Homo sapiens: one gene and its partners. The protein of the gene in region 1 interacts with the protein of each later gene in a pairwise test. Each region holds a gene or a part of one and is shown in the gene's direction. Other genes may lie near its edges.

The links.
Region 2: the proteins of USP19 (region 1) and ECEL1 interact in a two-hybrid assay, tested with the Homo sapiens proteins (one study listed by BioGRID).
Region 3: the proteins of USP19 (region 1) and CKAP5 interact in a two-hybrid assay, tested with the Homo sapiens proteins (one study listed by BioGRID).
Region 4: the proteins of USP19 (region 1) and HNRNPAB interact in a two-hybrid assay, tested with the Homo sapiens proteins (one study listed by BioGRID).

What each region holds. Positions count from the first base shown.
Region 1 is NC_000003.12:49,107,518-49,110,827, reverse strand, and holds the end of USP19 (ubiquitin carboxyl-terminal hydrolase 19), read left to right. Parts: coding exon 1-117; intron 118-223; coding exon 224-384; intron 385-465; coding exon 466-644; intron 645-1,642; coding exon of another isoform or gene 1,643-1,870; exon of another isoform or gene 1,871-2,155; intron 2,156-2,299; coding exon 2,300-2,416; 3' UTR 2,417-2,778; downstream 2,779-3,310. UniProt on the Homo sapiens protein: Deubiquitinating enzyme that regulates the degradation of various proteins by removing ubiquitin moieties, thereby preventing their proteasomal degradation. Stabilizes RNF123, which promotes CDKN1B degradation and contributes to cell proliferation.
Region 2 is NC_000002.12:232,479,291-232,484,834, reverse strand, and holds the end of ECEL1 (endothelin-converting enzyme-like 1), read left to right. Parts: coding exon 1-34; intron 35-238; coding exon 239-363; intron 364-611; coding exon 612-834; intron 835-1,320; coding exon 1,321-1,419; intron 1,420-1,655; coding exon 1,656-1,730; intron 1,731-1,880; coding exon 1,881-1,984; intron 1,985-2,226; coding exon 2,227-2,285; intron 2,286-2,365; coding exon 2,366-2,417; intron 2,418-2,985; coding exon 2,986-3,053; intron 3,054-3,204; coding exon 3,205-3,329; intron 3,330-3,678; coding exon 3,679-3,744; intron 3,745-4,021; coding exon 4,022-4,117; intron 4,118-4,359; coding exon 4,360-4,436; intron 4,437-4,582; coding exon 4,583-4,682; 3' UTR 4,683-5,008; downstream 5,009-5,544. UniProt on the Homo sapiens protein: May contribute to the degradation of peptide hormones and be involved in the inactivation of neuronal peptides.
Region 3 is NC_000011.10:46,759,257-46,766,292, reverse strand, and holds part of CKAP5 (cytoskeleton-associated protein 5), read left to right. Parts: intron 1-1,036; coding exon 1,037-1,162; intron 1,163-2,662; coding exon 2,663-2,812; intron 2,813-3,113; coding exon 3,114-3,317; intron 3,318-3,530; coding exon 3,531-3,666; intron 3,667-3,793; exon of another isoform or gene 3,794-3,904; intron 3,905-4,099; coding exon 4,100-4,293; intron 4,294-5,508; coding exon 5,509-5,681; intron 5,682-6,850; coding exon 6,851-7,024; intron 7,025-7,036. UniProt on the Homo sapiens protein: Binds to the plus end of microtubules and regulates microtubule dynamics and microtubule organization. Acts as a processive microtubule polymerase. Promotes cytoplasmic microtubule nucleation and elongation. Plays a major role in organizing spindle poles.
Region 4 is NC_000005.10:178,199,793-178,207,543, forward strand, and holds the start of HNRNPAB (heterogeneous nuclear ribonucleoprotein A/B), read left to right. Parts: upstream 1-4,740; 5' UTR 4,741-4,948; exon of another isoform or gene 4,949-5,022; 5' UTR 5,023-5,045; coding exon 5,046-5,254; intron 5,255-6,049; coding exon 6,050-6,218; intron 6,219-6,939; coding exon 6,940-7,098; intron 7,099-7,301; coding exon 7,302-7,433; exon of another isoform or gene 7,434-7,751. UniProt on the Homo sapiens protein: Binds single-stranded RNA. Has a high affinity for G-rich and U-rich regions of hnRNA. Also binds to APOB mRNA transcripts around the RNA editing site.

The sequences.
Region 1 (3,310 bases):
CAAGCAGCTGTTGCTATGGCGCCTGCCAAATGTTCTCATCGTGCAGCTCAAGCGCTTCTCCTTTCGTAGTTTTATCTGGCGTGACAAGATCAATGACTTGGTGGAGTTCCCTGTTAGGTAAGCAGTGGACCTTGGTAACTGTGGGTGGGGTGTGAGGACCAGGATGGGCATCCTGAGCGCCTGTTGCCTGTCTCACCCCTCCCTGACTGGACCTGACCTGCAGGAACCTGGACCTGAGCAAGTTCTGCATTGGTCAGAAAGAGGAGCAGCTGCCCAGCTACGATCTATATGCTGTCATCAACCACTATGGAGGCATGATTGGTGGCCACTACACTGCCTGTGCACGCCTGCCCAATGATCGTAGCAGTCAGCGCAGTGACGTGGGTGAGGGCACACACAGCCAGCAGGATAGGTGGTAGGGGTGGTGGTGCAGACTTTGTTCACACTCTTCCCACCCTGCTGTAGGCTGGCGCTTGTTTGATGACAGCACAGTGACAACGGTAGACGAGAGCCAGGTTGTGACGCGTTATGCCTATGTACTCTTCTACCGCCGGCGGAACTCTCCTGTGGAGAGGCCCCCCAGGGCAGGTCACTCTGAGCACCACCCAGACCTAGGCCCTGCAGCTGAGGCTGCTGCCAGCCAGGTGAGGCATGTGGGAGGCTTTACAGAATACTGGGGGACAGTTCACAGACTGGGGCCGGGTTGGGGGATATAGCTTCCTCTCCTCCAGCCACAGGCCCATTGAGCCTTGGGATTCATGAGAATTGCAGAGTTCTCTTAACATCAAAGCTTTAGCCAGAGGCATCCCCATGCCTTGGGGACACTAACAAACATACAAGTACACTAACATGCTGCCACTGGCAAGCACATTGGCACCTACTTGGCACAGGTCAGGCAACTGCTCTGAACCTCACTGGGCACTATGCTGTGAATGAACTATACCTGACACTCTCCTAGATTTCCTCTGCACATTCCCCACATGCTGGCCCACACACCCTCACTTGTGATGTCCCTGAGTTCTAGTGTGCACTCAAGACAAGGCCTATTTGGGCTGGCCATGGCCTCTGGTGGCTGTTATACTCTTTGAGGTAAGCATCTGTCTTTGCTGAGCCTTCAGGATCTTCTCTTTAGTGACATGGTGTGCCATAGGCCCAGTTAGTGGGCGTAGGCACATCTCTTTTCTGGACTGGCCGTCTCCTTTCTGGCTCCATCCTCTCTTGAGCCTTCTCTGTCAAGCTTAGAGAAATCCTTGCAGAAGACTGGTCAGGATCTGGGTATGGGTGGGAAGGAGCAAGGAGATTGCTCTGGGATTGGCAGTCCTGTTCTCTATGAATCGGTGTCCTTTGGGGAGGCCTGGACTGAAATACTAACCAGATAACTCCCCTCCCACCTCCATGCGGAGCTGCATGTGGATTGAGAGCTGTTTAGGGTAGGCCAAAATGCTGTCAAGATTCTCTTACCCTTGTGCTCTTACTCTGGACAGCCCTGAGGTTGGCTGCCTGCCTTCCTCCTTGCTGTTTGATCTAGAATGCAGGGTGTTAGCCCCAGTCACCCCAGGTGGGACTGTCATGGCTAAGGGTCTCAGGGACACTGGGTCCTCCCCACCCCCGGGGTGCTGATGGCCGTTTCCACATACCCTAGGCTTCCCGGATTTGGCAGGAGCTGGAGGCTGAGGAGGAGCCGGTGCCTGAGGGGTCTGGGCCCCTGGGTCCCTGGGGGCCCCAAGACTGGGTGGGCCCCCTACCACGTGGCCCTACCACACCAGATGAGGGCTGCCTCCGGTACTTTGTCCTGGGCACCGTGGCGGCTTTGGTGGCCCTCGTGCTCAACGTGTTCTATCCTCTGGTATCCCAGAGTCGCTGGAGATGAGCTCGCCTGCAGGCAGCTGCTGTGAGCTGGCCTACCTGCCTGCCCCAGGCCATGCCTGCCTTTGTTGTGGGGAACACCTCTGGGCTTTGGGCCTCAGCTTATGCATCTGGTGGGAGAGGGTGGGGAGGTTGTGGCCCCTGCAGGGGCAGAGTATCCTAGGGTGTGTATCCATCTGGCTGTCTGTCCATTCATCCTGCTGCTCTGACCCTTGGCCTCAGGCTTGGCCCTGCCCAAGCTACTTCCTGTACTTAAAAGTGTTAATAAAACCAGACTATTCAGGCCCAATCTCGTCTCTCTGTCTCAACGCCGCTGCTGTCTGCGCCTGCCTTGGGACCCTCCCTTGGGTGCCAGGGCTCCAAGCCAGCACCCCCGGGATGCCAGGCGGCATGCTGGGCAGCCCCCAACCCCTGTCCTCGTATTCTGTTGCAGGGACTAGGCCCTGGCCAGGCCCCCGAGGTGGCCCCCACGCGGACAGCCCCTGAACGCTTCGCCCCCCCTGTGGATCGGCCAGCCCCCACCTACAGCAACATGGAGGAGGTGGATTAGCAGGTCCCTGGCTGATGGGGGGGACTGGGTTTGGGACACCCACACAGAGGGCCAGCTCCTTGCCGCTTCTCCTTCTCTAACCCAGAGGACACTGGCTCTGTCAATGGGAAGCTGAGGGGTATGATTTGGGTGTGGAGACCTCTCAGGTTGGGACTTCTTGTCAGCTTGGACCCCTGACCAGTGGGCTTTGGCTTCTCCAGCCGCCTCCAGTGCTGCGTGATTTGATTCTGTTGTACCTTCAATTCTTCTGACCCGCATTATAAACATTATAATTTTATTCTAAAAATTGTAATTTTTTTTGCATTTTGGAAGTGACTGCTGCTGTTTAAATATATTTTAAAAATAAATAATAAGTAAGTAGACTTAGTGACTGTGATCCACCACATGCTGGGGCCACCTCCCCTCCCCATCATTTGCGGTGTGTATGTGTGTGTATGTGTGTTTATATATGAGAGACCCTGAAAGTGCCCTAGTCTGAAGGGAGATGATGGGGTCCCAGCTCATGTCCTATGGGTCATGAAGCCCCCAGTGCTATCAGCTTTTTGGAGCCTACCTGCTGCTCTTTCATCCCACTGGTTCTGGATCCTACATAAGAGGCAGCTTGGTAGGCATCGTCAGGATCTCAATATAGCCAAGGGACAGAGGAGTATATGAAGCACTGGAGCTGACAGCGTGGAGTAAAAGGTGCATTCACCAGAGCAGCCTGGGGCTGACAAGTCAGGGAGGACTTGGGGGACAGAAGTACTGGGAGATCTTCCTCCTCCTCTCCTGTCCTCAGCTTTTTCTTTGCTGTAACTTGAACACTAACTGCATCCCTGCAGGTAACAGAGCAGGAGGAAAACTGCTGTGGGGCAGATCTTGCTGCCCTGAAAAGAGGACAAGCAGAGAGGACCA
Region 2 (5,544 bases), on another chromosome or scaffold:
GACGCTGGGGCAGCTGCAGAAGATCACCCCCCACGTGAGTGTGGCCCAGTCCTCGTGGGCAGGCAGGGTTGAGGGCAATGCTGCTGCTGGGACTACAGGGTCATCTCTCCCCAGAGATGGGCAAACCGTTCCTTGGCCATGGACTCTCATGTCCCCTCGCTGCCTCTCTCTGCCCCCTCCCTGTCTTCTGTGGCCCCTGCCAACCCTAGCCTCACTGTCCCTGTCCTTGGTCTCACAGTTGCGGTGGAAGTGGCTGCTAGACCAGATCTTCCAGGAGGACTTCTCAGAGGAAGAGGAGGTGGTGCTGCTGGCGACAGACTACATGCAGCAGGTGTCGCAGCTCATCCGCTCCACACCCCACCGGTATGGCTGCAGATCTGGCATTTTCTGCCCAGCGGTCACTAGGTCCTTCCCCTGCACCCTGGACCTCTCTGCTGGGTGGGCTTTACATTTTCTGCTCTGCATAGCTGGGATGACCCCCTGTCCCTTCTTTGTGGGGCTGTCTGGGTCCTGGGTCCAGCCACAGGTTGGCGGGCACAGGTAGGGGTGGTGCCCTTGGTGGCCCACATGCATGTCCGTCTGGACACCCACTGGCTTCACCTGGTCCCCAGGGTCCTGCACAACTACCTGGTGTGGCGCGTGGTGGTGGTCCTGAGTGAACACCTGTCCCCGCCATTCCGTGAGGCACTGCACGAGCTGGCACAGGAGATGGAGGGCAGCGACAAGCCACAGGAGCTGGCCCGGGTCTGCTTGGGCCAGGCCAATCGCCACTTTGGCATGGCGCTTGGCGCCCTCTTTGTACATGAGCACTTCTCAGCTGCCAGCAAAGCCAAGGTGGGTTGCCCTTGTTTGAGAGAGGAGGATGGTGCTGAACTGAGGGTGGAGCCCTCCCGAGGCCATGGTCCTAATATGGGGAGCCCCACATGTCCCCTGCAGGCAGGGGGACCAGGCCCTGCTAAGTACTCAGCCGATTCTGAGGCCCCAGGCTGCTCCTCCACAGGCCTCCTCCTCCAGGAAGCTTATGTGGACTATCAACTGCAGGCAGACCTCCCTGCCAGGCCCCAGCCCACCTTCTCAGGCATGCTCGGGAGGCGTGGCCTTAGGGATGTCTGTGGTCATTGCTGGGGCAGTTTCCTCCTCTATCTTGTGAGCCCTCGGGGGTGCAGGGCCTGGATCCTCACCTCCAAAGTATCCTCTTGGTGTTCAGAAATGAGGTTTGGGCTTAGAAAGTGGTGCTTAAAGGCAGGGGTACCCCTCCTGCCAGGAGTGATAGACCAGGCTGCTGGGTTGACCCTTGCTCCCTGACCCCTGACCCTGCAGGTGCAGCAGCTAGTGGAAGACATCAAGTACATCCTGGGCCAGCGCCTGGAGGAGCTGGACTGGATGGACGCCGAGACCAGGGCTGCTGCTCGGGCCAAGGTGAGGGGGGACCCAGTGTCATTGGTTGGTCCCATATATATTGAGCACCTACTGTGTACCAGCGAAAGAGAACAAAAGGGACAAAGAGGCCTTCGTGGAGTTGACCAGGCCTGCCTCCCCCACTGTGAAGCCCACTCCCAGGCTGGCCTAGTGCTCCCTTCCTTGGTGGGTAGGGTGGGGGGCGGGGGGCTGTCTCCCGAGGCCTGGTGCCACCTTCACCTGCCCTCGGCCCGCAGCTCCAGTACATGATGGTGATGGTCGGCTACCCGGACTTCCTGCTGAAACCCGATGCTGTGGACAAGGAGTATGAGGTGGGCCCTGACCCTGCCTGCCCAGCCTGTCCACAGCCCCTCTACTAACGGCACTCAGGAGGGCAGGTGGCCTGCACGGCCAGGTTGTTGCCCAGTCTGCAGGTAGCCCTGCCCTGGCCTGCCGCTGAGTGTCGCCCGTGCCTCCTGCAGTTTGAGGTCCATGAGAAGACCTACTTCAAGAACATCTTGAACAGCATCCGCTTCAGCATCCAGCTCTCAGTTAAGAAGATTCGGCAGGAGGTGGACAAGTCCACGTGGGTGCCTGGCCCAGAGCTGGGGGTCAGGGAAGGGTTGTGGGGAAAGGGCAGGAGCTGGTAGGGCAAATCGTCTCACAGCCATGCAGATATGGGGGGCACACACGCCAGCACAGGGCATGGGGTGGGGGCCGGCAGGGTGACCCCCAGACTGTCAGGAGATGGCTGACGAGGAAGCTGTGATGTGAGGGTAGCGGGGGAGGGAGTGTGTTCCCCCCATTCACCCCAGCATCCCTCCACAGGTGGCTGCTCCCCCCACAGGCGCTCAATGCCTACTATCTACCCAACAAGAACCAGATGGGTAAGGGGATGTGTCCCTACGCCGGGCGGGGCAGGGTCCGAAAGTGGATGGGTTTCCCACTGAGCACCCCCTTCTTGTAGTGTTCCCCGCGGGCATCCTGCAGCCCACCCTGTACGACCCTGACTTCCCACAGTGAGTACATAGCTTGCCCTGTTTGTGGCTGAGGGCAGGGCTGGCATTGCAGACCTTGTCTACCAGGTGTGTGTCGGCGTACTGTGGCTCCAATCGCCCCAGACCCAGCTGGGTTCAGGAGTCAGGACAGCTGTGGACCCTGGCTCCCCACTACATCCTTGGTTATTTAGAAAAATGTGTAGGTTTGTTATTTGTAACTTCCTGGGGTCTTCTTTACTTGTTTGAGGCTCATTTTGATGTTTCAAAGGTGGCGCAACACTAATGATGAGGTAGGAGGAGAAACCCCTACGTAGGTGCCTCCGTTTCCCTCCTGTCTCCTCCAGCCCTGTTTCACTGCCCAGCCAGCTCTGTTAGATGTGATTTCCTAAAAGAAGCTGGATAGGTTCCACTGGCATTCACATAGCGCATGAGGAAGCTGAGGCACATGTGCCCCTGGACCGCACGGATGCCTCTGTGGCCTCCCTGTGCCACCTCCTGGCCCGGCCAGGGGACATCTGGGGCCTGGGCAGCAGCATGGGGCTCTCAGAGGGTGGAGGGCTAGGGCCTGATGCTGCTGCTGTGGGCCCAGGTCTCTCAACTACGGGGGCATCGGCACCATCATTGGACATGAGCTGACCCACGGCTACGACGACTGGGGTGAGGCCTGTTGGGGCCCCAGGGGATGGCCCGGAGGGGGCAGGACAGGCAGTGGAGAGGCAGGGTAGGGGATGGCCTAACTGGGGCTGGTGGGTGGGGAGGGGAGGGGGCTCAGGTGAGGGTGGGTCTCAGCCTGCTGCACTGCCCACAGGGGGCCAGTATGACCGCTCAGGGAACCTGCTGCACTGGTGGACGGAGGCCTCCTACAGCCGCTTCCTGCGAAAGGCTGAGTGCATCGTCCGTCTCTATGACAACTTCACTGTCTACAACCAGCGGGTGAGACCCCCACCTGCCCCTTGTGCCCCTCAGGCCTGGTGGGGCACGGGCCGGGAGCATCACGCACACCCTTGCGCACGTGCACATGTCCAAACAAAACCTGTGCCCAGGTCCCTGCACACACATTCGGTTCCCACGCACACTCACGTGGACAGATAATGAGTGTCCGCAGACTTACGGAGGACAAGGGGGTTGGGAGGAAAGAGTAGGGTTGGAGCCCCCCCTCAAACTCTCTGGGCAAGGGAAGGAGAGGGGTGGTAGGAATTAGGGGCTGGGGCCCAGGGTATCAATGCCTGAGGGAGGCCAGCTGGGCCCCAAGCAGCCCCCTGGCCTCTTCCCTTCCCGGCAGGTGAACGGGAAACACACGCTTGGGGAGAACATCGCAGATATGGGCGGCCTCAAGCTGGCCTACCACGTGAGCGGCCTGCCTGTGCTCCACCCCTGCTGCAGGAGGGACGGGGGCTGATGAGGACTCCAGATGAGGGACAGAGCTGCCTCTCCCTGCCCACCCTGCTGAGCTCTGGCCTGGGGTGGGGCAGGGCATGTGCTGGGGCCACGGTCCACTGGAAGAGGAAGGATTCACGGGCCCCCCTTCACAGGGAGAGCAGGGAGGGCTACCTAGATGGAGGACAGAGAAGAAGCGGTGCCCAGGGTGGGCGGGCATAGCAGGTCCATGCTCTCTGTGTCCCCAGGCCTATCAGAAGTGGGTGCGGGAGCACGGCCCAGAGCACCCACTTCCCCGGCTCAAGTACACACATGACCAGCTCTTCTTCATTGCCTTTGCCCAGGTGGGCTGGGTGGGGGATTGGACTGGGAGCCTTGGGGTGGGGACACGGCATCCAGGGTCAGTCCCAGTCCTGCCTTGCCCAGGCTTCGCATGGACAGCCTGTCTGTCATCACCTGTCCCGTCAGAGGTGATGGTCCTGTGGTGCTGAGGGGGCCTACCGCCTTGTGTGCTGGGTGGGGGGCAAGGGGGCGGATGCCTGGCTTCATCTCCCCCTCCTCCCCTCCACCCCGCTCCTGGACCCAGAACTGGTGCATCAAGCGGCGGTCGCAGTCCATCTACCTGCAGGTGCTGACTGACAAGCATGCCCCTGAGCACTACAGGTATGCCCACCTGCCCGCCTGGCCTTGTCCACTCCTTGTGTTTGGGGTGGGATCAGGGGGCATGGGAAGGAATAAAAGTCACCCCTGGTTGCTGGGGCTGGAGTGGCTGCAGGGCCCAACACTGTGTGGGTCTCTCCCCACCCCAGGGTGCTGGGCAGTGTGTCCCAGTTTGAGGAGTTTGGCCGGGCTTTCCACTGTCCCAAGGACTCACCCATGAACCCTGCCCACAAGTGTTCCGTGTGGTGAGCCTGGCTGCCCGCCTGCACGCCCCCACTGCCCCCGCACGAATCACCTCCTGCTGGCTACCGGGGCAGGCATGCACCCGGTGCCAGCCCCGCTCTGGGCACCACCTGCCTTCCAGCCCCTCCAGGACCCGGTCCCCCTGCTGCCCCTCACTTCAGGAGGGGCCTGGAGCAGGGTGAGGCTGGACTTTGGGGGGCTGTGAGGGAAATATACTGGGGTCCCCAGATTCTGCTCTAAGGGGGCCAGACCCTCTGCCAGGCTGGATTGTACGGGCCCCACCTTCGCTGTGTTCTTGCTGCAAAGTCTGGTCAATAAATCACTGCACTGTTGCCTTGGCCTCTTCACGGGTCCCCAGGGCAGGCGGAGCTGGAGAGAGCCCTCTGCAGGGAGGCTAGGGCACTTAGCACAACCGGGACCCTGGAGAGGACCTTCTTGTCTCCTGGTCGCCCTGGCTTGGCCGCCTGTGTCCAGCCTTCCTGGACTCTTCTATCTTTTCCACCAACCGACAGTACTTCCCTGGCCCAGCCGCCCTCCCCCAAAGCCTCGCCCAGGGCTTCTTGCCCAGTTCTGGGGCACCCCTAGTTCAGCCTCATGGCCTGGTGACCCGCATTCCAGGGTGATGCTGGGGCTTATGACCCCTGCAAGTCTGAAGTAGGAGAAACTTCTGCCTTGTCTTAGCCTGGCCCTTGGCCTCAGCCTCCCTGGAGAAGGGGATAGCGATCCACACTTACATGGAGGTGAGGCTGACCCACAGGACATCTCAGCCTCTCCTCCAGTGTGGAGACAGGCTTCTGGGGTGCAGAAAGGAGAGGACTGGTAGGAATGGTAGGCTCCTGGCATGAGGAGGGTGGACAGAGGCAGGGAG
Region 3 (7,036 bases), on another chromosome or scaffold:
ATTTTTTTCCCAATCTTTTTAAACTTACGAAGCAGTTTCATATAAATGATCTCATATTTGTTTGGTCTGAATGACATTAGTGTTTATACTAGAAAGAAATTGTGGCCAACTAGAAATAGTGGCCATGCTACATTTATAATAATAATGATTCCAGTAATGAAATTTGAATTTTACCTTAAATATGTGTACTATTGTTTACTATTTTCTTTCTATCTGATATGAAGATTTTAAATCTTGGATTATTTTTTAAAACCACTTTAGTGACTTAAATATTTAAAGCATTTCTTGTAACTTTCTCTAGAAGCAAGTTCAAAAGGTCTTCAGTTACACTGTTATGATAAGAGATACATTTAAATATCAATGGAAAGAAACAGAAAAGCTTTCAAACTAAGTGTTTGGAAATGTGTAAATGCCATTCAAGATGTCATTAATGGCTGAGGTGGGTGGATCACTTGAGGTCAGGAGCTCGAGACCAGCCTGGACAACATGGTGAAACCCTGTCTCTACTAAAAATACAAAAATTAGCCAGGGGTGGTGGTGGGCGCCTTTGGTCCCACCTACTGAGGAGGCTGAGTCAGGAGAATCACTTGAACCTAGGAGGTGGAGATTGCAGTGAGCTGAGATCACGCCACTGCACTCCAGCCTGGGCGACAGAGTGAGACTCCGTCTCAAAAAAAAAAAAAAAAAAAAAAAGATGTCATTAATATGGAAAGCTATAAATAGTGTTGAAGATTTCAAGAAAACAAAAACAAAAAGTTTGTGACCTAGACTAATGATCAGTAATAGCAGTTTTTCCAACTACATAACATGCCAGTCCAAGAACTAACCAACAGTTACTTAAGAATATTCTCAGAAAAATTTCTAGAGAACCTGTTCAAAAACATATACAAGATTCTGTGATGCATGTTTTTTTCATGTGAAATATCACGTAGAAAGATATCTCTGTTTTCTACAGTGCCCTTTTACTGGGCAGCAGCATCATATTCTTAAGGAGAAGTGGCCAAGCTAATCAGTATTCCCTGAACCTTGGTTGTAGAGTGCACAAGGGAAGAAGATGCCAAGCAAAACCAGCTTAAAGGAGGATGAAGACAAATCCGGGCCTATTTTTATTGTTGTTCCAAATGGAAAAGAGCAAAGGATGAAAGATGAAAAAGGATTGAAGGTAAGGAAGGATTAAGAATCGTCAGGAGATTTTTGCTTGTATTGTTATTCAAGAATAGTTTTGCTGTCTGAATTCATGTTATTGTTTAATATCTAGGAATTAAGTGTTTCTTTTGCTTATAAATTATATTATTTAGTTTATGGGAGCATTAATTCCTACAAAAGAAACTATAGAATAGAGTTATTGCCTATTTTTCCCTGTAAATAGAAATAAATGATTTAGTAGCTTTTTTGGTATCTTCATTGATTTTTTTTTTTAATTAATTGGATGTATAAGCTTCTTCATTAATCCTTCTTTTTAAGACCTTACAAGGCAGACTTTGTGACTGTATAAATGGCTAGTTCAGTCATTTATGTTACTTTGATTTCATTAGATACTTAAATTTGTTTTCAAAATACATAATCTTTTTTAAAAATTATATGCAGTACAGAAAGTGCAAAGTATAGTAAGAAAAGCATGTCTCTGTTCCAGTATCCCTCCACAGGGAGGATATTAGTCCTCATTTTTTCAATGTATTACTCCAGAAATATTTTATACCTCTACTATCATATGTATATTTTTATATAGCCCTCCTTTTATACAGATGGCATATACAGACATGCCGTACTGTTTGTTCTGTATCTCACTATTTTCTTTTAATGATGTTTGAAATATCTGAAAGATCATTCGTATCTGTGTATATATGTGTGTATCACTGTTTGTATTGGTGCATTGTATGTATGTACCTTTCTTTATCCTTCGCCCACTATGTTGGACATTTAGGTTGTTTCTGGTCTTTCACTATTACAAACACTGCTGCTGTGAATATCTTTGAATGTAGGTCTTTGTACACATATGTGAGTGTATCTATATTAAACTCCTAGAATGATGATATGCATAATTTTGATAGATATTTCAAATTTTCTCTCTATCAAAGATGTGGCAGCAGTGTCCACCATGTTATATAGTTATATGTAGGATTAATTTTTTTTTTTTCTTTAGTAAGAATTGCAAGGCCAGGCACAGTGGCTCATGCCTGTCATCCCAACAATTTGGGAGGCTAAGGCAGGCAAATTGCCTGAGCCCAGGAATTCAAAACCAGCCTGGACAACATATTGAGACTTCATCTCTACGAAAAAAATTTTTTAATTAGCTGGGCATAGTGGTGCATGTCTGTAGTCCCAGCTACTTGGGGGGCTAAGGCAGAAGAATCACTTGAGCCTGGGAGGTTAATGCTACAGTGATCTATGATCATGCCACTGCACTCTGCCATGCCCAGGCAACAGGTGAGACTCTGTCTCAAAAACAAACAATTCCAAAAATTTTTATTCCTAGAAGATTTTCAGAGTTGTTAAGCTTCAAGAAGTATGACACCTTGAAATTTGCATTCATATTTAATTACAAATGAATATTGTTGAATTTTTAAATATTTTATTGTTCCTGCAGCTGCATTATATAAGGCTCTCTACCTCATTTCAGTTGAACACCCTGTAGCCCCTTTTCACCGTTTGTTTTTTCCAGGTGCTAAAGTGGAATTTTACTACCCCACGGGATGAATACATTGAGCAACTAAAGACTCAAATGTCTAGCTGTGTGGCTAAATGGTTACAAGATGAGATGTTTCACTCAGACTTTCAGCATCATAACAAAGCCCTTGCTGTTATGGTTGATGTAAGTCTGCAATAGATAAATATACATGTATTTCAGACATGTAAAAATACCGAGCCCTATGAAATAATCTGAAGTTTGCATGACTTGGAAGTAGAATATACTATGTTCTCTATTTTTAGAGCTGTCTTGTTATTTGGTAGAATAAATGAATGTGTGTGTATATTTTTTAGGTCTTAATTGAAGGCTTAAAAATCTGTCATTTTCTTTTTGGGCTCCAATAAAATTTAAAAGACACTTGCCTAGTAGAATTAAGATTTTGATTATTCTTATTTGTGGGAGTTTTGTTTTGTTTTATTTTAAGCACTTGGAGAGTGAAAAAGAAGGAGTTATTGGTTGCCTGGATCTTATCTTAAAGTGGCTTACCCTGAGGTTTTTTGACACCAATACAAGCGTCCTGATGAAAGCACTAGAATATTTAAAATTGCTCTTCACCTTGCTAAGTGAAGAAGAATATCATCTTACTGAGAATGAAGCATCTTCCTTCATCCCCTATCTTGTCGTCAAGGTAATGTGGTGTTCTCTCTCTGGGAGACTGCTTAAGTTCCCAGCTGACCTCAGTTTCTGTACTTTTATTTCCTCTCCCTTTTTTACTGATTATATCACGGTACCTTCCCTACTTATCCCTATTTCCCTATTCTTTCAAAACATAGTAATGCATGGGAGAATCATTGCTACTTAGGAAATGCCTCACTTAATCATTATTTTCCTTATCGACTAGGTTGGAGAACCAAAGGATGTCATTCGTAAAGATGTTCGTGCCATCCTGAACCGGATGTGCCTTGTCTACCCAGCTAGCAAGATGTTTCCCTTTATCATGGAAGGAACCAAATCCAAAAACTCTAAGCAGAGAGCAGGTGAAGCAAACAGTTTAAACTGAGATGTGAATCTCTGCAGCAGTAGCCTATAGAAGAAATAGTTTATAGATGAACAAATAAATTTCTCCAGTGCCTATGTAGTTGATTCCAACCTCCTGATTTAGACTGTGAGAGTGATGAGTTGCACACTGGTGGAGCCATGGTATCAGGTGATACAGGCACCACTCAGTATCACCCTGGTGACAAAATCAAGTGCACAGGGGCCATCTGACTCACAGGCATCTCTTCCTTTCAGGAGCACTTGCTGAAATACCATTTTTTCACTGATAAAAGGCAGTAAACAAAAAATCCTAGGCAGAGCCAGAGTAAGGTTTTAGTCCTTCATATATGCCAAGGGAAATTTCTCTAGTAAGGATAAGTCTCTGTCCCAAATATGTGTTGTCTCATTAATCTAGCCTTTCTCCCCCATCAGAGTGCCTGGAAGAGCTGGGATGTCTGGTTGAGTCCTATGGCATGAATGTTTGCCAACCAACCCCAGGAAAAGCCTTAAAGGAAATAGCTGTTCACATAGGAGACCGTGACAATGCTGTACGCAATGCTGCACTCAACACCATTGTAACGGTGTACAATGTACATGGGGATCAGGTGTTCAAACTGATTGGAAATGTGAGTGACTTCTCTGAACACTGTCAGCATGTCGTGAAAAGAATTGCAAGATCTCCTAGGTGTTAGGTTTCCTGTCCTCTCAACTGTAGCTAAGTTTTTACTACTTTTTAGTCAACTCAACCTATCAATGTGTCCTAGAATCCAGATAGACCCTTGAGGTGTCTCTGATTAGGCTGTTTTAATGGAAATCAAGTTTTCTTTTCTGAGCATTCTATTCATAGCAAATTTGCTTTAGAAATGAGTGCTATTTTTGAATCAAGAAATCTGAGCTAGTCCCGGGTTTAAATTCTGCCTGGCAGTCTGCTCTGTAATTTTTACTGCATCGAGTTTTTGGTTAAAAAGTGCTTATTTGTGTATAGTGTGGATGCTAGTATCTGTCAGATCACATCTTGCGCTACAGCCGTGAGCCAGTTTTTCACTCACATTAGGTTCTGCCTCTGACCTCTTATTTCGTTTGAGTGAGTCTGGACCTCCGTCTTCAGTTACCTCATAGTGTCACCATGTATTTACACAGGGCTTAAATATGTTTACTTATATTTTCTAATTAAATTCTCACTACTACCCAGTGAAGAATATAAAGCAGTTGGGAATTTTACAGATGACCAAAAATGAAGTTTCTTGCCCATAGTCACACAGCTAGATAGTGGTGACAAAACAAAAAATGAGGAAGCTTCATTTAATTTTTGACCTTTTTATTTGTAGTTACTAATTGGCTTTCTTTTTTTTATCGTTTCTTTTTTTTTTTTTTTTTGAGACAGGGTCTTGCTCTGTCACCTAGGTTGGAGTGCAGTGGTGTGATCATGGTTCACCGCAGCCTCGACCTCCCAGGCTCAAGTGATCCTCTGACTTCAGCCTCCTGAGTAGCAAGGACTACAGGCGCGTGCCACCACACCCAGCTTATTTTTATACTTTATGTATAGATGGGGTTTCACCATGTTGCCCAAGCTGGTGTCAAACTCCTGGGCTCAAGTGATCCTCCTGCTTTGGCCTCCCAAAGTGCTGGGATTACATGCATGAGCCACTGTGCCCAGCCCCTCTCCTTCTTTCATATCTCCTCTTCCTATAGCAGCTAGGCAGGTATTAATAGTAGTTGATTTTGAAATGTGGTGCTTTGAAAGTAAACATGTCCTAACATAGAAGGTTCTATTTGTTTTGATATGAAAATAGATATTATTGTGTTATCCAGTTAGGTTTCTAAATTTGGCCTCTTTACAGCTTTCTGAAAAGGATATGAGCATGCTCGAGGAGAGGATTAAGCGGTCAGCAAAGAGACCCTCTGCTGCACCAATAAAACAGGTGGAAGAGAAACCTCAGCGTGCACAGAACATAAGCTCCAATGCCAACATGTTACGCAAGGGACCAGCTGAGGACATGTCTTCCAAACTCAAGTATGTAGATAGAGATACTTGTCTGAGAGCATCTCCATGGCCTTTGCCTTGTGTGCTCACAGCCTGTCCTGTAACATAATCTTGAGTTCTTGTAGCCATTATCATGCATGACAGAGTGTCTGGGTAAATGTATTGTAACCAAATGTTTGATTCTTCAGTCTTCATTGTCTTTGTCTTTGTCTCAAAACCACTTCTAAATGGTCTTGTGCCTTCTTTCACTGCTTTTCCGTGGACAGAATTATGTATCGCACTTATAGGATGTAAGTACTGCCTGCTAATTTCTCATTAGCAGGGCTCTTATATCTTTCTAACTTCTGACTTGGATTCATCCCCTCTGGAGGGTGACTAGCTTAGAGTTTATAATCAGGGTAGAGGGTGTCCATAAGTACCCCATGAATCAAGTCTTCCACAAAAGTTCAATGTCATGTGGCTAAAATACTGATTCACTTTCTTCTTTGTGTTATACTTGGTTGTGCTTAGTTTCCTATTCTTGAGATAAGGCTAATTAAAATACATGCAACCCAAAATTGGCTTAGGGACTCAAAATACTGCCTCCTAAGCAAGACAGCTCTATTTTGGGTTGTGTCATGAGTATAATTTTAACGAACTTGAATTTGGAAACTTTGAATCCCTATTTCTTGGATGTAAAGCTGGCCCTGACCTGTCAAGAGTGAATATTCTAAAAAGGGGTGACTGGTGGTCTCACAAAATATAAAATGTGCTGAACACGGCATGGAATGGTACTTATGATTAGCAAAATTAAAGCACTGGTTAATTTGGTGGAAAAGAACCAGCCAGTCTAAATTTTTCTTATATATTTGCTCATAAGTAGTGAACTTTGAGTCAATACAAATATATTTTATTGTTTTCTGCCCCTTCAGGAATAGAAATACAAGGTTTGTTGGCTTTAGTGAACTAGAACAAATACTTATAACTTGGCAGGTAATGTAAGTACAAATTAAAGTTATCTGCCCTCTTAGGATATTCATGAACCAATGTTGTTACCTATTAAAGGCACTTGCTTAGACTCAGGGACTTAAATCATTCAGGGGGGCTGAAACCAGAAGTTGAACATCTGTCCTGAAGCTTTGGGGCAACTGACAGTGCTACTCTTGCCCTTTGGTTAAGAAGTCTCTTTTAGTTCAGGAGCCTCCTTTTGCTTCCCTTAGCCAAGCCCGAAGCATGAGTGGGCATCCTGAGGCAGCCCAGATGGTCCGCCGAGAATTCCAGCTGGATCTAGATGAGATTGAGAATGACAATGGTACAGTCCGATGTGAAATGCCAGAACTTGTTCAGCACAAACTGGATGACATTTTTGAGCCAGTCCTTATTCCTGAACCCAAGTGAGTTAAACT
Region 4 (7,751 bases), on another chromosome or scaffold:
GAGTGGAGAGTGGCAAGGAGGTGCAGCTGAGGCGACTCATGCTGGACCTTATAGGCCAGGTGGGAGGGTGAGAGTAGGCCAGGCTACAGTTTGAGAGAAAAAAAAAATCCCAAATCTCAGTGCCAGGCCCAGTACAGGTTCATTTTCAGCTTGTGTCAAATCTGATGTGGGCCGAACAGCTCTTCTCCATGAGGTAGCTCAGCCGTGTAGAACACATGGTCGCGGGGTGAAGGGAAGTCTGGACAAGGCCCCCAGTCTCCATGGCCCCAGCCTGAAAGGAACTCTTCCACTCACAGACCACACAGCAGGGGAGGCTGGCAAGGTGGGGGCACAGATTTCTGGGAGCCCCAACTGTCTGTCCCACTCGTATTCACCCGAAGTCAAGGCTAAGACTTCATCCTGACAGCACTGGGAAGTCAGCCAGGGTTTTCACACAGAGGTAGTGACAAGATGGGACTTGCATTTTCAGTTTTTCCTTTTTTCACTGTAGCTCTCAGATCTTATGACTTGTGTTTTAGAAAGATTCATCTGGCTAGAGGACTCCTCTGAAGCAGGGGAGCTGGAGTTTGGTGGAGCGGGGAAAGTGGCTGCAGCGGGAGTTGGCCACAGCAGAGGCACGATATATTTGTAGTTAACTCATGCAACTTCCACCTTGCAGGCTCAGCCAAAAAACCGAAAAAAAGAATGTGAGAAAAATCAATTCATGTAATTAAAAAACAATCCAAAAGCATTTTGTGTATGTCCTTTCCTAGATTGGAGATTGTCCACATTTTATGCATATATTCTGAATAGCCCAAACCCAGGGAGTGTATACTCTATGGGCCTTTTAAGAGATTTTCAGGGGTAACTGAGCTCCTGGCTGACTTGAGAACCTCACTGTCATGGAATTGCCCTCTACTCAGGGTCTGTAACTGAACCTAATAACAAAAGTAGGGAGGCTTGTGTCAAAAGGACTTCCTGCTGTTTCCCAAACAGTGTGGTGCCTTGCCTCTGGCAGAAACACCCTTGGATACAATATGAAGGCTTTATTTATTTATTTATGTAATTTCATTTTTTTGAGACAGAGTCTGGCTCTGTCCCCCAGGCTGGAGTGCAGTGGCACGATCTCGGCTCACTGCAAGCTCTGCCTCCCGGGTTCACACCATTCTCCTGCCTCAGCCTCCCGAGTAGCTGGGACTACAGGCGCCCCCCCACCACGCCCGGCTAATTTTTGTATTTTTAGTAAAGACAGGGTTTCACCGTGTTAGCCAGGATGGTCTCGATCCGCCTGCCTCGGCCTCCCAAAGTGCTGGGATTACAGGCGTGAGCCACCGCACCCGGCCCGGCATTTTTTATTTTTTGCTGAGACTGACCCCTACCTGCCTGCAGTTCTTTCTAGTTTATGAAGTGTTTTCTAAGCCATTACCTTATTTGAGCTTCAGGATTCTTTATTTATTTATTTATTTATTTTGAGACAGAGTCTCGCTGTGTCACTTAGCCTGGAGTGTAGTGGTGCGATCTCGGCTCGATGCAACCTCCATCTCCCAGGTTCGAGTGATTCTTGTGCCTCAGCCTCCCGAGCAGGGGGGACTACAGGCCTGGGCCACCATGCCCAGACTTTTTTTTGTATTTTTAGTAGAGATGGGGGTTCCACCATGTTGCTCAGGCTGGTCTCAAACTCCTGGCCTCATGGGATTCTCCTGCCTTGGCTTACCAAAGTGGTGGGATTACGGGCGTGAGCCACCACGCCCAGCTGAGCCTCAGAATAAATTAGATCTTTGATAGGAGATCTAATTTACATCAAGGAACTCAGAAGCTCAGACACACCTTGTCCCACAGTAGCCAGGAGCCCTGGAAACAATCCCCAATGTGGAGTTGGACGTGTTGGTTTCATGGCCACAGTTTTAGCTGTGGTTTCAGTATTCTTGTGTATAAAATATGGGTAACTGCACAAAGCTATTTTGAAGCTCCAGTAAAGCAAGGTTGGTGAAAGCATTTTGCAAACTGCTAAGCGCTGTCCAAATGTTGTATCCTCAGACTTTACACGTCACTGAAAGTGTTTCTGAGTCGTGCTAAAGAAATCCACGTGGAAGATTAAGGGAATTTATGCCTGCAGTAATGTCTTTGGGCTGCACCTACACTATTTGACTTTGAACTTAATTTCCTGAATTACCTTCACTGCTTGGGGAGCTGTGCCCATCATCTCCTGCAGGCCACAGCCCTGGCCCTCATTTCTGTGGGTTGGCAAGGGCTGGGGTGGAGGTGGGGTGAGCAGTTTGTTAGAGACCGCCCTGAAAGCCTTGCTGCCAGATCTCAGTGACATGAGTAAGGTCGTGTGGAAATATGTGACTTCCTGTTATGGAATTAGCCTGGGACAGTGAAGAGTGGCCTTGGGGTGAACCAGAGGGCACTTGCCCACCTGGGTATGGGTATCCCAGCTGCACTTGATTGTTACTTTGGGGGAAGGCAGTACAGTGTGAGCTAAATCTTCGGACTTTCCTAGAGAAGCCTGAAATCCACGTATCTTCATTTTTCATTCTCAGGGCAACTCCAGTGCCTGGGTGGAGTTAGTGCCTGAGTTGGTTGTGTAGCTTTGGGCCGCTGCTCTTGACTTCAGTTTTCTCATTTAAAATTGGTGATCCACCTGAGATCAGGAGTTCAAGACCAGCCTGGTCAACATGGTAAAACCCCATCTCTACTAAAAATACAAAAATTAGCCCGGCATGGTGGAACACACCTGCAATCCCAGCTACTCAGGAGGCTGAGGCAGGAGAATCGCTAGAACCTGGGAGGTGGAGGTTGCTGTGAGCTGAGATGGCTCCACTGTACTCCAGCCTGGGCGACAGAGCGAGACCCCCGTCTCAAAGAAAAAAAAAACCTGGTGATCTAGCTGGGCAACATAGGGAGACCCTGTGTTTACAAAAAATTCGCTTGGCGTGGTGGCCACGTTTCTGGTTCCAGCTACTTGGGAGGCTGAGGCAGGAGGCTCATTTGAGCCCGGGAGGTTGAAGCTGCAGTAAGCCGTGATCGTGCCACTGGACTCCAGCCTGGGTTACAGAACAAAACCTTGTGTCAAAAAATAAAATAAATAAAATTGGTGACCATACCACCTTACTTTGGTTGTTAAGATACAGAAGAGAAAATGGAATGCCCAGCCCACCACACTGGTCCTGGCTGCAGGAATCCACTGGAAACGCTAGTTCCTTGTGTTCTGGGTTGCTATTTGGTAACCTGCAGGCTCCAGAGGTTGTAATCCTGCTTGCCTTGGGGCCCACCACCCATATGATTAAAAGGAATAACGGGATTACCGAGGCCTTTAAAATTTTGTGGTCAAGGAGATAATATAAAGGAGTTTTGTGTATTAGGAAGAGAACAACGCCCCCACCCTGTCCTTTACCTCGTGAGTTCACGAGTGGTGTATTTGTTTTGTTTTGTTTTTGAGACGATGTCTCGCTCTGTCGCCCAGGCTGGAGTGCAGTGGCGAGATCTCGGCTCACTGCAAGCTCCGCCTCCCGGGTTCACGCCATTCTCCTGCCTCAGCCTCCCGGTAACTGGGACTACAGGCGCCCACCACCACGCCCGGCTAATTTTTTTGTATTTTTAGTAGAGACGGGGTTTCACCATGTTCGCCAGGATGGTCTCGATCTCCTGACCTCGTGATCCGCCCGCCTGGACCTCCCAAAGTGCTGGGAGTACAGGCGGGAGCCACCGCGCCCGGCCTCCGTATTTGTTTAAAAAAAAAAAAAAAAAAAAAAAGGCCGGGCGCGGTGGCTCACGCCTGTAATCCCAGTACTTTGGGAGGCCCAGGCGGGCGGATCACGAGGTCAGGAGATCGAGACCATCCTGGCCAACATGGTGAAACCCCGTCTCTACTAAAAAAACAAAAAAATTAGCCGGGCGTGGTGGCGCATGCCTGTAATCCCAGCTACTCGGGAGGCTGAGACAGGAGAATCGCTTGAACCCGGGAGGCGGAGGTTGCGGTGAGCCGAGATCGCGCCATTGCACTCCAGTCTGGGCGACAAGAGCAAGACTCCATCAAAAAAAAAAAAATAATAAAAAGGAAGAAAAAGAAAGACAAATGATTTACAGGAAAAAATTTAAGTAAACAAAAGTACAAATGCGATGTCAATCGTTCAGGTGGTGCCAGGGGACAGAGAACCGGGGAACACCAAGGTCTCATCGTCCCTGCAGAGCATCTCTGGGGGAGGCGACGGACAGGGCGCGAGCGCGGGGCTTGGAGGGCACCAAGGTCCAGGGGGATGGCGGGTTCAGTCCCAATCCCTCCGACCCGTGCTGAGGGCCTTGGAGGACCCCACTCGCCCAACCTCGGAAGCCCGGGTTCTGCCACTTCCAGCCACGCGTCCTTGGGCTGCGAAACTTTCTCCAGCCCAGTTTCCTCTTTTGGGACATGGGGAGGCGGAGGCTGCCAATGCTGGGATGGAGTCCTCGAGAGCAAGAGACCAGCGGCCTCGACGAGCTTACAATCCGATTAGGCCCTCCCACCGATGTGCTGTAGCTGCCCGCCGCCCTGGACCCGGCGCCGTCCCGCCCGGCTTCGGGAGCCCTCCGTAGCGGCCGGACTCGCGCGCGTTCTAAAATGAGGACAAAGCCCGCCCAGGTCTAGAGCGCGCGCGCCGTGGCGGCCAATGGGACGCTGAAGCTAGGTTGAGTGACGGACTTGAGCAGCCAATGAGTGTGCAGTTTGTTGCGATGTGGCACCCGGCTCCGGCATTATAAAGGGCGCCACGAGTCGGCATTGTCAGGCGGCGGCACCGCGCGGGACGGAGCTTGGCTGTTGGTCGGTGGGTTCCCGTGCGGCGGCGGCCAAGGAGGAGGAGACACAGTTGGAGCAGCTCCGTGGGCTGACTGGGGCGAGGCCTCAGCAGCGCGAGCTTGAGTGCGGCCGAGCCTGCGGCGCCTTCCCCTGCGGGTGGGGACGAGCGGGCCCCGCGGCGTCATCGGCGGCGAGGTGAGCGGCGGCCGGCGGGCGGGAGCTCTGGCGGGAGCCGCGCCGGCCTGACGCGCTGTCGCCGCTGGTTGCAGGAGCCGCCGCGCCTCGGCCTAGCATGTCGGAAGCGGGCGAGGAGCAGCCCATGGAGACGACGGGCGCCACCGAGAACGGACATGAGGCCGTCCCCGAAGGCGAGTCGCCGGCCGGGGCTGGCACGGGCGCCGCGGCGGGGGCTGGAGGCGCGACCGCGGCGCCCCCGAGCGGGAATCAGAACGGCGCCGAGGGCGACCAGATCAACGCCAGCAAGAACGAGGAGGACGCGGGGTAGGTGCGGCCGCGGGCGGACGGGGGCGCCGCCTTTGTTCCGGGGCCGCCTTTTGTTGGCGCCACGCGGCGGGGGGAGGGGCGGCGGCCTGGCCCGGGTCGGGGCTGGTGCGGCCCGCGGACTGTCGCCGCTGCGTTCGCGGGCCGGGCCTGGCGCTGCCACTCGCGCTGGAGTTTGCGGGAGTTTGTTGGGTCGACTTTGGCGCCGCCCCGGGGCCGCTCGCGCGCTGCCAGGGCCAGGGCCAGGGCCGGAGCCGGCGCAGGGGCGGGCGGATGGCCCGGAAGAGGGAAAGCGCTCGGACCCGGGGCCCGGCGGCGTCTTGGGCCGCGCCGGCGGCTGCGTGGGCGGAGTTGGCGCGAGCCGGGGCCCGGACCTCCCTCCTCCGCCTCTCCCGGGGGCGGAGTCACGGTCTGAACCCTGGGCGGGCTTGGTCCCCGGAAACATCGAGTTCCTTGAAACGAGTTCTCAGGAGTTGGTGGAGACGCTGGCCCTTTGCTACATGGTTGTAGAACACATGAATTTCCAGTTATGAGTGGTTAGGTCCCATACCCCTGGTGAGGTGGTCCCTTCTTTGCTTCTCACAGGCTGGGGCTGCAGAGCCTTGTTAAGCCTCGTTAGGGTCCTGGTTGAGTTCAATTTGGAGGGTAGTGGAGATTTAACATCTTTCTAAGGTGCTCCTTGCAGACTCTAAGGGTAGCTGTAGACTTCGTGAGAACTTTGCCAGGGCCAGTCCTTTCCAAAATCACAGCTTGCTTACAAGACTTGTTGCCGTGTGTCTCACCCTACCATTTCAGAAAAATGTTCGTTGGTGGCCTGAGCTGGGATACTAGCAAAAAAGATTTAAAAGACTATTTTACTAAATTTGGAGAGGTCGTTGACTGTACAATAAAAATGGATCCCAACACTGGACGGTCAAGAGGGTTTGGGTTTATCCTGTTCAAAGATGCAGCCAGTGTGGAGAAGGTAAGCTGGGTACTGGATTTCAGCAGTCTCAGTGGAAACGATTTGAATTCTAAGAGGACACCTTTCTTAAAGCATGACTAGTTTGTGTGGTCTGCATGTGATTTAAGTGCTTTGGGCAAAACCCAAAGCCGGAGGTTATGTTCCGGTTTTTGAGGGGATGAAAATACAGATTAAGCTGGGAGTGAGAGAATGTGCTGGAGTGGTTCGGGAAGATGACAGTTGACATTCATTACCTTTTATGTGCCTATTCTGGGTACGGCGCTAAACATCTGGGAGGATTACAAGAGAGTCCATGATTGGTATGATAGGCTTTTAGCCCCATTTTACAGGACAAAAACCAAAACCCTAAGGCTCAGAAATGTAAGTAGAAGAGGTCACAGCTAGTAGGGAGTGGAGGGAGGATTCCTTCCCCTGTGGCCCATCTTCAGCCTATGCTCCGAGTCCCTGCTGCTTCGCTTCTGGAGATGGGCCTCACGCTGGGACTGCTTGGGCAGGAAGAGCATGATCAAAGGCTTAAGTGTGAGGACTGTTTTCTAGGTGTCGAGGTAAACCAGCTGTACTTGAGGTTTGATGAAAATTGGGTTGGGAGGTTAAGCTGGGGTAGAATTTGGAGGGGGTGAAACACATGTTTGTATCTGTACTGGTGTCTTTATGGCTTAGAGAGAAGGGCCTTGTCTGGCTCGTGCTGCTGAGTCAGCCTGACCCCTTTCTGTTGGAACAGGTCCTAGACCAGAAGGAGCACAGGCTGGATGGCCGTGTCATTGACCCTAAAAAGGCCATGGCTATGAAGAAGGACCCGGTGAAGAAAATCTTCGTTGGGGGTCTGAATCCTGAAGCCACTGAGGAAAAGATCAGGGAGTACTTTGGCGAGTTTGGGGAGGTGAGTGTGGCTCTGGGAATAGCCCATCAGCTGCCCCTAAGGCTGCCTTCTTTCTGGTCCTTGGTATCCTTGGCTGGCTAGACCCTCCCAGGCAGGGCTTATTTTTCACCCTCTGTCTTCAATGGGGTCTTTTCTCCTGTGAGTCCCCTATATGCTCTGGGGTAGGGAGGTATTGGGCCTGAGTTTGCCTATGCTTTTTGCAGATTGAGGCCATTGAATTGCCAATGGATCCAAAGTTGAACAAAAGACGAGGTTTTGTGTTTATCACCTTTAAAGAAGAAGAACCCGTGAAGAAGGTTCTGGAGAAAAAGTTCCATACTGTCAGTGGAAGCAAGGTAAGGTGTTCCCAGCTCTGCTTGGCCTCCTGTGCTGCTGGAGAGCTGGCCCTTAGAGGGATGGGTTAGGGGTTGGGCCTCATGCAGGAGCTCTCCAGGTTGGTCAGACTTTACTATTTCTCTGAAGCGTATGCTGCCCTGATTGGGGCAGTGTTCCAATCCTTGAAAGACTTCTCAGGCTGGGAGGACTGCCAATAAACAACACAGGATGTGAGGGAGGTAGGAGAAGGTGGCCTCTGTGAATAGAGCAGGTTGAGTAGCCTCTTTAGCTCCTCACTTAAAGCTAGAGGTGACAGTTCTAGATTCTTGAGTCCAGGG